3 linked regions of the Homo sapiens genome follow. The protein of the gene in region 3 interacts with the protein of the main gene of each other region in a pairwise test. Each region holds a gene or a part of one and is shown on either strand. Other genes may lie near its edges.

What was found.
Region 1: the proteins of TRIM10 (region 3) and ZNF620 interact in binary tests that used the Homo sapiens proteins (3 or more experiments, as listed by UniProt).
Region 2: the proteins of TRIM10 (region 3) and ZNF148 interact in binary tests that used the Homo sapiens proteins (3 or more experiments, as listed by UniProt).

What each region holds. Positions count from the first base shown.
Region 1 is NC_000003.12:40,509,039-40,512,787, forward strand, and holds part of ZNF620 (zinc finger protein 620), read left to right. Parts: intron 1-2,431; coding exon 2,432-2,558; intron 2,559-3,363; coding exon 3,364-3,477; intron 3,478-3,749. UniProt on the Homo sapiens protein: May be involved in transcriptional regulation.
Region 2 is NC_000003.12:125,373,628-125,377,376, forward strand, and holds the start of ZNF148 (zinc finger protein 148), read right to left. Parts: upstream 1,699-3,749; 5' UTR 1,475-1,698; intron 1,083-1,474; exon of another isoform or gene 600-1,082; intron 1-599. UniProt on the Homo sapiens protein: Involved in transcriptional regulation. Represses the transcription of a number of genes including gastrin, stromelysin and enolase. Binds to the G-rich box in the enhancer region of these genes.
Region 3 is NC_000006.12:30,154,603-30,158,351, forward strand, and holds part of TRIM10 (tripartite motif-containing protein 10), read right to left. Parts: intron 2,790-3,749; coding exon 2,767-2,789; intron 2,453-2,766; coding exon 2,337-2,452; intron 1,158-2,336; coding exon 1,125-1,157; intron 1-1,124. UniProt on the Homo sapiens protein: E3 ligase that plays an essential role in the differentiation and survival of terminal erythroid cells. May directly bind to PTEN and promote its ubiquitination, resulting in its proteasomal degradation and activation of hypertrophic signaling.

The sequences.
Region 1 (3,749 bases), on a different chromosome or scaffold from region 3:
TTAAGCAGATAGTAGGTTCTTATTTGCTTAAAAGTCCAATATGACAATGTTTGCCTTTTGGGATGTTTAGATTATTTACATTTGATACCATTATTGATATGGCTGGATCTGGGCCTGTCATCTTTCTACTTGTTTTGTAATGGTCCCATCTGTTCTTTGTTTCCTTTTATTCTCTTTTTCTATTTTCTTTCTTTTCTTTTTTTTCTTTTGTTTGAGACAGAGTCACTGTGTCACCCAGGCTGGAGTGCAATGGTATGATCTCGGCTCATTGCAATTTCTGCTTTCTGGGTTCAAGCGATTCTTGTGTCCAGCCTCCCACGTAGCTGGGATTATAGGCACACACCACCATGCCTGGCACATTTTTTGTATTTTTAGTAGAGATGGAGTTTCATCATGTTGGCCAGGCTGGTCTCGAACTCTTGGCCTCGAGTGATCTGCCCACCTCAGCTTCTCAAAGGGCTGGGATTACATGCATGAGCCACCGTGCCTGGCTCTTTTTTTTCCTATTTTCCATAGGATTAATGGTGTGTAAATATCAGGCATCGTTCTTTTCAGTCTTTCCAAATGATCCTTTCTCTGGCCTTGGTTAGTTTTCCCACACCCATGTACTGATCTGTATTTTGTTGAATACTCTAAAGGGACCTTCTGCTGATAATTGAGATTCCATCTCTATGCAGCCCTCTCCTCTCTGGCATTCTGTCCTATAAACTCAAGCTGCCTTGGTCTCTTCAGACTCTACAAGGAAATATGCCAGGTTCTGCCTCAGTTCCCCCTTCCTGTGTTGCAGCCTGGAAATTCCTCAGGGTAGTAGCTTAGGGAATTATAGGGCTCACTTCTTTTCTTTCCTGTTTCTCAGGGATTGTTGTCGTTTTTTGCATGATATCTTGAAAATTGTTTTATATAATTTGTCTGGTTATTTTGTTTCAGGCAGGAGGGGAAATCCAGCCCCTGTGATTCCACCTAGATAAGAACTGGAAGTTTTCCCTTAGCATTTTTTTTTTTTTGAGACAGTCCCACTGTCACCCATGCCAGAGTACAGTAGCACGATCACGGCTCACTGTAGCCTCAACCTCCCCTAGGCTCAGGTGATCCTCCCACCTCAGTCTCCCGAGTAGCTGGGAGCACCACCTTGCATGGCTAATTTTTGCATATTTTGTAGAGACGGGGTTTCACCATGTTGCCCAGGCTGGTCTCGAACTTCTGAGCTGAAGCAATCTTCTCACCTTGGCCTCCCAAGGGGCTGGGATTACAGGTGTAATCTGTAATCCCTGCATTTTCAAAAACATTACCCTTTTACTTTTGGTGTTTAGTCTGTTGCCATCTCGACTTCCCAGTCTTCGTGTGTGTTGTTTTTCCTTCTCTGAAAGCCTGTAGGATCTGTTGTGTATTCTCATTTTTCTGAGATGTCTCAGTTACATGCCTATGTGTAGATATTTTTCATTCATTGTCCTAAATACTTTGTTGGTCCTTCCTTCTCTATGTTGCTTTTAAGGAGATAGAATATTTTACCAAGTTATAAACAACAGTGCACATTTACAAAATCCTTAGCTCATCCTTAGTTCTGTGGTGTGAATTGGGCCCCTTTTTGTTTGCTTCCCCTTCTGCCAGAAGTTGAGTTTCATCTTTGTCTGCTTTTCTAGTCTAGTTATCATTCATTCTCTTTCTGCCTTCTAAAATTCTGTTTATACCTCTAGTTGGCTTTGATTCTTCTCTCTCTCTCTTTTTTTTGAGACAGGGTCTCACTCTGTCACCCAGGCTGGCGTACAGTGGTGCAAACACAGCTCACTGCAGCCTCGACCTCCCCGAGCTCAGGTGATCCTCCCATCTCAACCTCCCAGGTAGCTGGGACTACAGGCATGCACCACCACACTTGGCGAATTTTTGTATTTTTTGTAGAGACGGGATTTCACCCTGTTGGCAACATCGCCAGGCTGGTCTCAAGCCATCCGCCTGCCTTGGCCTCCCAAAGTGCTAGGATTACAGGCGTGAGCCACTGTGCCCAGCCTGCTTTGACTCTTCTCTTGGGCTATTATGTTACTATCACTTTAATGGGGTTAGGGAGAGAGTGAAGATCAGTACAAAAGTGTTATTCACTGTGTTTATACAGATGTCCCCTGTGCATGTGCACACAAAACCCACACTGGGGAAAGGAGCCCAGAGGAACAGATGGGCACACAGAGCAGGGCACAGTGGAGGCAAGCAGAGATCAGCAGATGAAAATAGAGCTGTTTGCTGGGGATGACCACAAAGGGGTGCAATGACCCTTGGACTCCCCTGTTGGTGCGGGCAAAGATGGCTGAGGGCTGGCCTCATGGTGGAGTGCTGGATAACTGTCCTTGGCAATACCACTAGACCCAGTAGATCTCTGCCCCACTACTTAGCCTGATCCTCTGCCCTCACACAGGGTTTGAGCAGGAACTTGTTGTTTTAGGAACCAGTGACCTTTGAGGATGTGGCTGTGTACTTCACCCAGAATGAATGGGCCAGCCTGGACTCTGTGCAGAGGGCCCTGTACAGGGAAGTGATGCTGGAGAATTATGCAAATGTGGCTTCCCTGGGTAAGACATTTCTTCTTGTTTTTGGCCTCTGCCCTTTAAGCATCCTGGCTTCTTTATTCCTTAGAACTTTGTGGGGTTTTTTTCTTTTTTTCTTTTTTTTTTGAGACAAGAGTCTCCCTCTGTCGCCCAGGCTGGAGTGCAATGGCGCAATCTCGGCTCACTACAACCTCCACCTCCCAGGTTCAAGCGATTCTTCTGCCTCAGCCTCCAAAGTAGCTGGGATTACAGGTGGGCGCCACCACACCCGGCTAATTATTGTATTTTTAGTAGAGATGGGGTTTCTCCATGTTGGCCAGGCTGGTCTCGAACTCCTGGCCTCAAGCGATCCTCCTGCCTCAGCCTCCCAAAGTGCTGGGAAGACATGTGTGAGCCACCGCTCCTGGCAGGAGAACTTTGTGGGGTTTCTAATAACTCTCTGTTGCCCTGAAGGCTGAGCTGCCTGGAAGTTTCTGGGTGGAGAGAGCCCTGCGTTCCCAGGTTTTGAAATCACCTGTCCCTCCAACCCTGGGAGGGGCTGTACCCAAAACATGGGGGGGAAAGGAGCTCTTGGGAGCACAGCAAAGCCCCTTGTGTCTTCCAAGTTCTCTGAAGAAAACTTGAGATTCCCTTATGTGAGCGTGGGATTATTCTGGGACTCTGTGCCACTTTGTGGGAAATTTCTGTCCTCCAGCAGCATAGATTAAGTTTCTCCCTGACTCACCTTGTCTCTCACTACCTGGCTCAGCAGATAAAGATAAAGGGGGCTGCAAGAGGATCCTGGTTCCTGATTCCCCTTACCTTTTCCTGTTTCTTTCTCCCTGGGCAGCATTCCCATTCACCACGCCTGTTCTGGTCTCCCAGCTGGAGCAAGGGGAACTGCCATGGGGCCTCGATCCCTGGGAACCTATGGGCAGGGAGGCTCTCAGAGGTATCTGTCCAGGTGAGCATGAGAACCCACTAGCTGCCTTTTTGGCTTGGCTTGCTTTCTTGTTTTCACATTTCATTGTGCAAGAAGTGTTTCTTCTCTTGGGAGACTGTTTTTGTTCCTGTGGAATCATTACATGTGATTCTCTGAGTTCATGGTGGTAGCCTACCTCAACTGGGGAAGGGCCAGTCTCTTTTAAGACAGGAATGACTGTAAGATTTCTTTGCATATTCGTCTTTGCCTGTCCTCCTCACAACCTGCCAAGGGAGACTGTCTGATTGGGCAGC
Region 2 (3,749 bases), on a different chromosome or scaffold from region 3:
CCTAAAACCAAAACAGATATTCTAGCTCCTCCATTCTGCAGGCCCACACTTTGCTGGCTGATACGTTTTCTTCAATGCCATCATGCCTGAATGAGAGTATTCTCTCACTGGAGAACTCCCTCACAGTTCACTTCAGGAACTGTGAATGGCAGAAGATCTCCCACCAGCCACAGATTTATGGAACCAATCCAGCCAACTAATTTGAGCTACAAATGAAGTATCTAAAGAAGAGCCAGCAAGCATGTCTTCCCCCCGACCATTAATTATAATCTTGTGTACTGCAATCCAGGCTGAATAATACGGCACCAATTCTCCTGGACCAGATAAACTGGGCAGTGAAGAAAACCACCAAGTCAATTAATTTCCATTCCAGCGTTTGCCAGGATAGTATTTACCCAACCTCGGGTAAGTGTTAATACTTCAAATTTTCTAAAATCGAAGCTCCATAGCCTAAGGAATCCCCACAGGCCAGACCCTTTCTCAAGGTCTGCTTCAGAGGTTCTCATACTCATTGGTGCACGTCTAAAATGTCACAGACCAAACTACAGACTAAAATCTAATTCTCAGTGACCCCAACCACGGCCCAGACCCACACTTACCAGATGTCATCTACTGAACAGCCCACACAGGTTCGGAACTAGGCCATCCCGGCCCATCTGGAATAACTCTTCAGTACTTAGGCCAATATTTATTAATTATACTACATCTGTCTATTCTATTATGCATTCCCTGCATCTTCTCTACTATTTAGCACTCCCTCTTGCTTCAAACGCGATCCTTTCTATTCACGGGAACTCCTATCTCCCTTCTTTCCTTCCCTGAGAAACGCTTCAGTTCTTTCCATAATGAAATACCTAACGTATCTGCACAATGAACACCCCCCAGAATCCTCAAGACTCCTCCACAGCCACCTCCCCGCATTCCTCCACCTCTCCGGCATCTTTCCTCCGGCCCCTCGCCCTGTTCGCACTCCCACTACGTTTCCTGCAAGCATTCCCTTTTCTCCAACCCCTGCCCTTCCCTTCTCCCAAAGAGCACACTCCGGCAGCAACAGTGACTGAGGCCTGCGGTGCATAAAGCACTGCACCAGGCACGGTGGACAGAGCCCTGGTGTCTCCCTAGCCTTTTCACACCCACACCCAGCACCCTCCGGCCTCCCCGTGCAAACATCCCACCTCCTCCCCTACCTCTGACACCCGCCTCCAGCCTCGGAGGCCGCCTTCTCGCCTCCGCCACCCCCGTCATTATCCCTCCTCAACCCCCCAACCCACCCTCCGCGCCCTGCTTCCTCACGTCCCCCAGCCAGCCCCAGCGTTTCCCTCGGCCTCGGCTGGCCCCCTGGCCACCCCCAGCCTCGCCACGGCTCGCTCCCCCCGGGGTCAGGCCGTTACCGCCGCGCGCTCCCCCCGCGCGCCGCCCCCTCCCCCTCCCCCGCCCTCCCCCGGGCCCGGGCCTGCCAGGCCGAGCGCTTTACCGCGGGCGGGCGCCGAGTCGCGCGGTCACCGACTGCAGGCGGCGGCAGCTCCAACCTTTCTAGGGGCCTTGAGAGGAGGGGAAGGGGGGAGGGGGGAGAACTTTTGCTGTGGCAGCTTCGGCAACAGCTCCCACCCCTGCGCCTTTCTCCTCTTCCTCCCCCTCCTCCTCCTCCTCCTCTTCCTCCTTCTCTTCCTCCTCCCAGAGCAGTAGAGACGCAGACATGCCGCAGCTAGAGCGCCGCCGCGGTCGCCGCCACTGCCGGCCCGGTGCATTGTGGGAAGCCCCGCACACGGGAAGCGCTCCGCGGCGCCCGCCCTCGTCTGGCGCAGAGACCTGGCTGGAAAGACACAGCGTGGCTTCGATTCCGGCGCCTGCGTGTCACCAGCCCAGGGTGGCCGTGGAAGCTGGACCCGAGCCGCAGGCCCCCCAGGCTGGGCCTGGGAGGAAAGCGGTTTGAAAAAGATCGGAACTGAGGAACTCTCTTAGAGCGGGGGACTCCCTGCTCCTACAGCCTTAACCAATGCCCAGCGCTTGGAAAGTGGAGGACTCGGGGATTCGGGAGCGTTTCAGGCCTGGGGAAATGGAAGGGTCGGGGACCTAGGTGAAAGGTTATTTGCCAGAAATGTCTTGGCTTTTTCATTTATTCTGTCTTACCTAGCCCTTCGCCGCCACCTCCAGTCGTTGGCCTCTTACCACCTTCAAATGCCACCTTTTCCGGAAGATGTAGCCCTGCGCCCTTGAAACTGGCAAACCCTATTAGTGTCTGCAAGCTGAGATGCAGGGTGTGGGCATAGACACAGATCAAGAGATCCGGCCCTGGACCCTCTTGGGCAGAACCTTGCCCTTCTCATTTCACCTGAAGCCCAAACTTTGTATGGCAAAGACTTGGTAATGATCTCTATAGAGCTAGGATTACACAGTTGTCTCATCCTTTGGGGGCCCTTTAGCCAAACTGTGACCTCCTTAATGGTGCCTTCGTCAGCTAACATTAGGCGCCCTGAGGTGCTTCTGCATACTGCCATCGTTTACAATTACTCATCTTTGTGTACACACCCTAGCACAAGGTCAGCCATATAACATAAAAGATGCTCAGTGAATGTTGAGTAATTGTGAGCATCTGGAACTTGCCGTGGGATAAAACGCGTTCATTGGGATTTCTTCATAATAATATGAAGATTCCATTTAGCGCCTCTCTGCAATACTTAAACGTAACCTTTGAGGGGAGAGGGAAAAGAAAAGGCATGAAAATATCTATAGAGCCATTTCTGGTGTTCTCCTTCCCTTTTCCACACCCGCCTTCCCACCCCTTGCCAACTAAATGTTCATTTGAATAGTGCTTTTTGGCAAAATTCCAAACTCCTGCATTATGCACTTGTGATGACACTGAATTAGATTAGTGTCTGCAAGGTTAATGTTCCCTCAGGCATTAACCTTAGTAAATCGTGATGCCTGTTTAGAAATAGCTAAGGCCCAGAGGTTCAGCTTAATTTAGACACAGGTAACTAAGAGCAAGAGTAAACCACAGCTCCACAATCAACTCTCTCTGTGTGCTTTCTCCATTAAAAAATATAAATTTTAATAAGATGACCGCACATATTCTGAATGTTAATTGCAACAAAACAATGACACAAGTTAGAGCCAAGGGACAGTTATCTGGAGGACAGCCTTCTGGCAACTTCTAGCACCCGCAGTGGCATCAAATTCAGACGTCATAATGAAAAACACCTCTGGCAGCAAGAAAGCCGACTCTCAGTATTAGGCAGTGGGAAAACTAATAACTGAAAAGGGCTCAAGGCCTGGAGGTTACATCCAATGGGCTAGGATTGATTGGTTTGCTATTAGGAATAGATCTAGTTCTCTGCTCAGCAGCCTAACAAGCGATAGAGAAACAGCTGTCTAAAATGGGCAGAACGAAGAGCACTACAGGGATAGTAACAGCAAAAGCGATGGTGAGGAGCAAGCTTAGGTCCTTTATAAGTTAAACTGGAAAAACTTCTCAGCTTCAGGTTGGCTCTCCATGCTCCTCTTGCTCACTTCCCTAAACACCACCCGTAGGTACTCAGCCTACTTACTTTTCCTTTTTTTTTTTTTTAACTTTTTATTTTGAAATAATTATAGACTCACAAGAAGTTGCAAAAATAGTCCAGAGTCCCATGCTTTCCCCAATGGTGACATCTTACAAAGCTCTAGTAAGACATCAAAATCAGTGTCAACCTAAATAACAGAGAGGCTTTCTAAAAGAAAATAATGTTTATTTGGGAATAGAGCATTGC
Region 3 (3,749 bases):
AGTGCCTACGTGGGCCAACAGTGTGGAACCACCTGGGAACTTGTTAGATATACGCTCTCAGAATCTGCATCCTAACAAGATGCCCAGGTGATTTGCACACAGGTAAAGCCTGAAAAGCCTGCCTCAGAGGATGTGAAAGCTCTCGTTTAGTTCAGTGTGGTCCTCGGGAAAGCTCTTCTGCTCACCGCAAGTTGGCTGGTTTCCAAAGCTGTGCGTGCCAGCTTGGATCTCCTGGGGCTGATATACCACATTCTCCCCTCCTCCCATCTCTATCCCACAGTGCAGCGACATTTCTCCCTTCAGTCCAAACTTCATGATTCCTCCCTGTTTTCCTCCCAGGGCACTGGTGACTCATTTACAGTCTTCCCTCCTGGCAGGCTCTCTGGCTCACCCCTGGGTTATTCACTCTGCCTCAGTAATTCTGAAACTGTCAGAGTCTGAGGACCACTTTTTACCACCAAAAACTGCTGCAGAGCCTTGCGTTTTGTTACTTTTAGTATTCATAAATTGAGAAGCTTCCATAAATTTAGGTCCATCTGTGGGTTAGAGAACCCCCTCCAACAACTCCGTGACTCCCAGGGTCTTAGGCTGGTTGATTGAGAAATGACAGCCTTGAAGGGGTCCATTCTGTTCATTTTTTTCCCACCCACAGGCCGCCCTCCTTCTGTCATCTGTGAAATGACATCTGAGAGGAAGCAGGGGTTCCTTACGTTCTAAAGAGGTGATTATAAACCCAGATCAAAGTCCCCTTTATCCAGAAAGCATTCCCAGATGGACTTTATCCCATTCTGCATTAATCTTTCTATCTACTCGACATGCGCAGATCAGGATGTGAGCTTCATACCACGAATGTAGTATGTGTATGTGCTTGTCCTTTCTTCATGTTTCTCCTGAGAGCCTTACAAACAATGTGACACACACACACACACAACCTATATATACACACATGTATTATATACACACACATATGTGTATATATAATATATATGATGTGTATATGTATCCATGGGTGTTTGTTATGACTATTGTCATAGTCATAACATAGTCATAGTGCAAATCCTGCAAAATTTTCTCTCCTTTCCGAGGACTTCTCATTCTCTCCCATCCTGACATAGGCTCCTTACCTGGCTCATAGTCCAACTCAAAGCATAGTTTTTCTGTAAAGAAAATAAACCAGGATGAGATTTTATTAGTCTTACAAAACCATCAGACACTTAATGATGAGAAAACTGAGGCCAAGAAGAGGGAAGGGACAAGAAGAAGAATGTAAGCTGGAATCCTCTAGACCAGTGGTTCCAAGCTTGCATCAGAATCATCTGGAGCTCTTGTTAAAACACATCTGTTTCAGATTCAGGTGCTCTGGGGTGGAGCTGAACATCTGTATTTCTAACAATTTCCTGGGCAATGCAGCTGCTGCTGCTGGTGGGAGCCCCACTGCCCTAGCCCTGATCAAACAGGGACCATGACTGCCTTGCTCACCTCTGTACCCGCAGAGCCCAGGACATAGTAAATGCTCAAGAAATATCTGCTTAGTGAATAGAGAAATGGGTTCATTTATTTATTATTCCACTTGGAAATAATTTTGGGGAGAGTCAAAGGTCAGCCTTTGATTAGAGTGAAATTTCCTTCACTGACAGGTCACTGGAAGTATTTGCAGGAAATGGAATTATGGGAAAAGTCCTTCTAGGGTGACATAACTGTGGGTGGGTCATTTCAAAATTGGTGTCATCATTCATTCTGTCATGGTTAGTGAGGAGGTGGTTGGCAGAGAGCCATGTCCCATTCCTGACTCTCATCCAAACCCTCCCCCACACCCTACCACCACTCCCTGTTCCGGAAAAGGAAGTGGAGCACAGTCCCCGTAGGACCGTCTAACTCTGAGCCAGACTAACAGAAAGAAAGTGAGAAGGAAGGAGGGACGAGCCAGATACCACAGGGTCAAGATAAATACTGTTGTTGGCTATTAATTAACAATGTTCATCATCAAAAACTTATCACATATTACAAATGTTGCTGTGGGATTTTTTAACTTATTAAGAATGATATATTGTTAATCATTATCTTTCATATTGCTTAATGACCACTAATCAGATTTGTTGAATTATTTTAAAATCAGTTTAACTTTTTCACCAGAAATATTCACCTTTATTCTCTTTCTTCATTGTCACAATATCCTAATAGGCAGATTTTATAAAAATCTGCAAATAAGGAAATCAAGGCACAGGAAGGAATAAGGCTTGCCAAAGTCACACCTTTCAGCAGTGGAGCGTGGAGGCCACTCCTAAACCCAGGCTTCATGGCCACCTGCGCTCTGTGGAGGCCTGGGGTTCTCTTACCCAGAAACATCTTCATCTCCCTCTGCAGCGGGAGGGCCTGCTGGGGAAAGTCCCGAATCCTCTGGCCCAGCTCTGGCGACACAGCCACCGGTTTCCGGCACTTTCTGGTTTCACATCTAGGGGCACAGAAATGGCTGGGTCTGGGAATTATCATCCTTAATAATGTCTCCAGACTCAGCTGGTCATCTTCTAATAGGGCATGATGGCGCTAGTTCCTGCAGGCAGACGTACTTCCTCTAGGATGAATCCCACTGCCCATTTTTGGGCATCTATGGATATACCTGAGAAGGCATTTGGGTATATAGAGGTTTATATGTAAATTTGTATCCTTAAGTGAGAATGTTATATACCTGTGTGGCAATAACTAGGCATGCAGTACATGTATGTATATTTATATGGAAAAAGAAAAGAGAGAAACTATATTGCTTACCTTATTAGAGTGCTTCTGATGTCCTAGGAGAAAGAGATACCAGAAATTCAGTTTCCAGCTTCTCCTTTCCATTTTTCTTTCCTTTCTTTTTCTACTTTTATTTTATTTATTTTTTATTTGCTTGTTTGTTTGTTTGAGAAAGGGTCTCACTCTGGTGCCCAGGCTGGAATACAGTGGCGTGATCATGGCTCACTGCATACTCAACCTCCTGGGCTCAAGGGATCCTCCTACCTCAGCATCTTGAGTAGCTGGGACTACAGGTGTTTGTCACCATGCCTGGCTAATTTTCTTTTTTTTTTTTTTTTTTTTTTTGTAGAGATGGGGTTTTGTTATGTTGCCCAGGCTCCTCCCACTTTTCTTATGACTGGAAAAGACAAAATATATTTCTAGCCCTGGACAGGAAAAGGATACCAGATGCATAGAGTCACAGAGCATTAGGACTCACCCATCTCTGTGGATCAGAGCCCAAAGCCTTTATTTTTTAGATAAAGATGGTGAAGTGACCTTCCCCTGCTCACTGGAGGCAAAGTAAGTCTCATACCAAGGTCTCCTGTTTCTCAGTCCTAAGAGCATCATTCTAAGTCATGCTGCCTTTCCAATACTTTGTGGGGACCCCAATACCTCTCCTCCAGTGTGAGGAAGTGAAATAGACCAGGACAAACTTCCTGACTGGTGGTTGGTGACATTTAGGTTATAGAGAATGGTTTGCAACTTACTTAATACTTTTTCAAAGTGCTACTTTCACTTCCATCTTACTGTTGGATCCTCACAAAAGCCCTGTGAAATATTTAAGGAAAGTATCTTCCCTATTTGGCAGATGGTGGGACGGAGAGGTGGAGACCAGAGAGCAAAAAGTGACCAGGGAACTCTTGGAAAAGCATGAACTAGAATTGAGACTTTCTGGTCCTCTGACCCACCTCCCATCTGGGATACAGAGATGTGTGAGTCAGGGAGACATGGCTTAGGCAAGACAAAGATGCAAG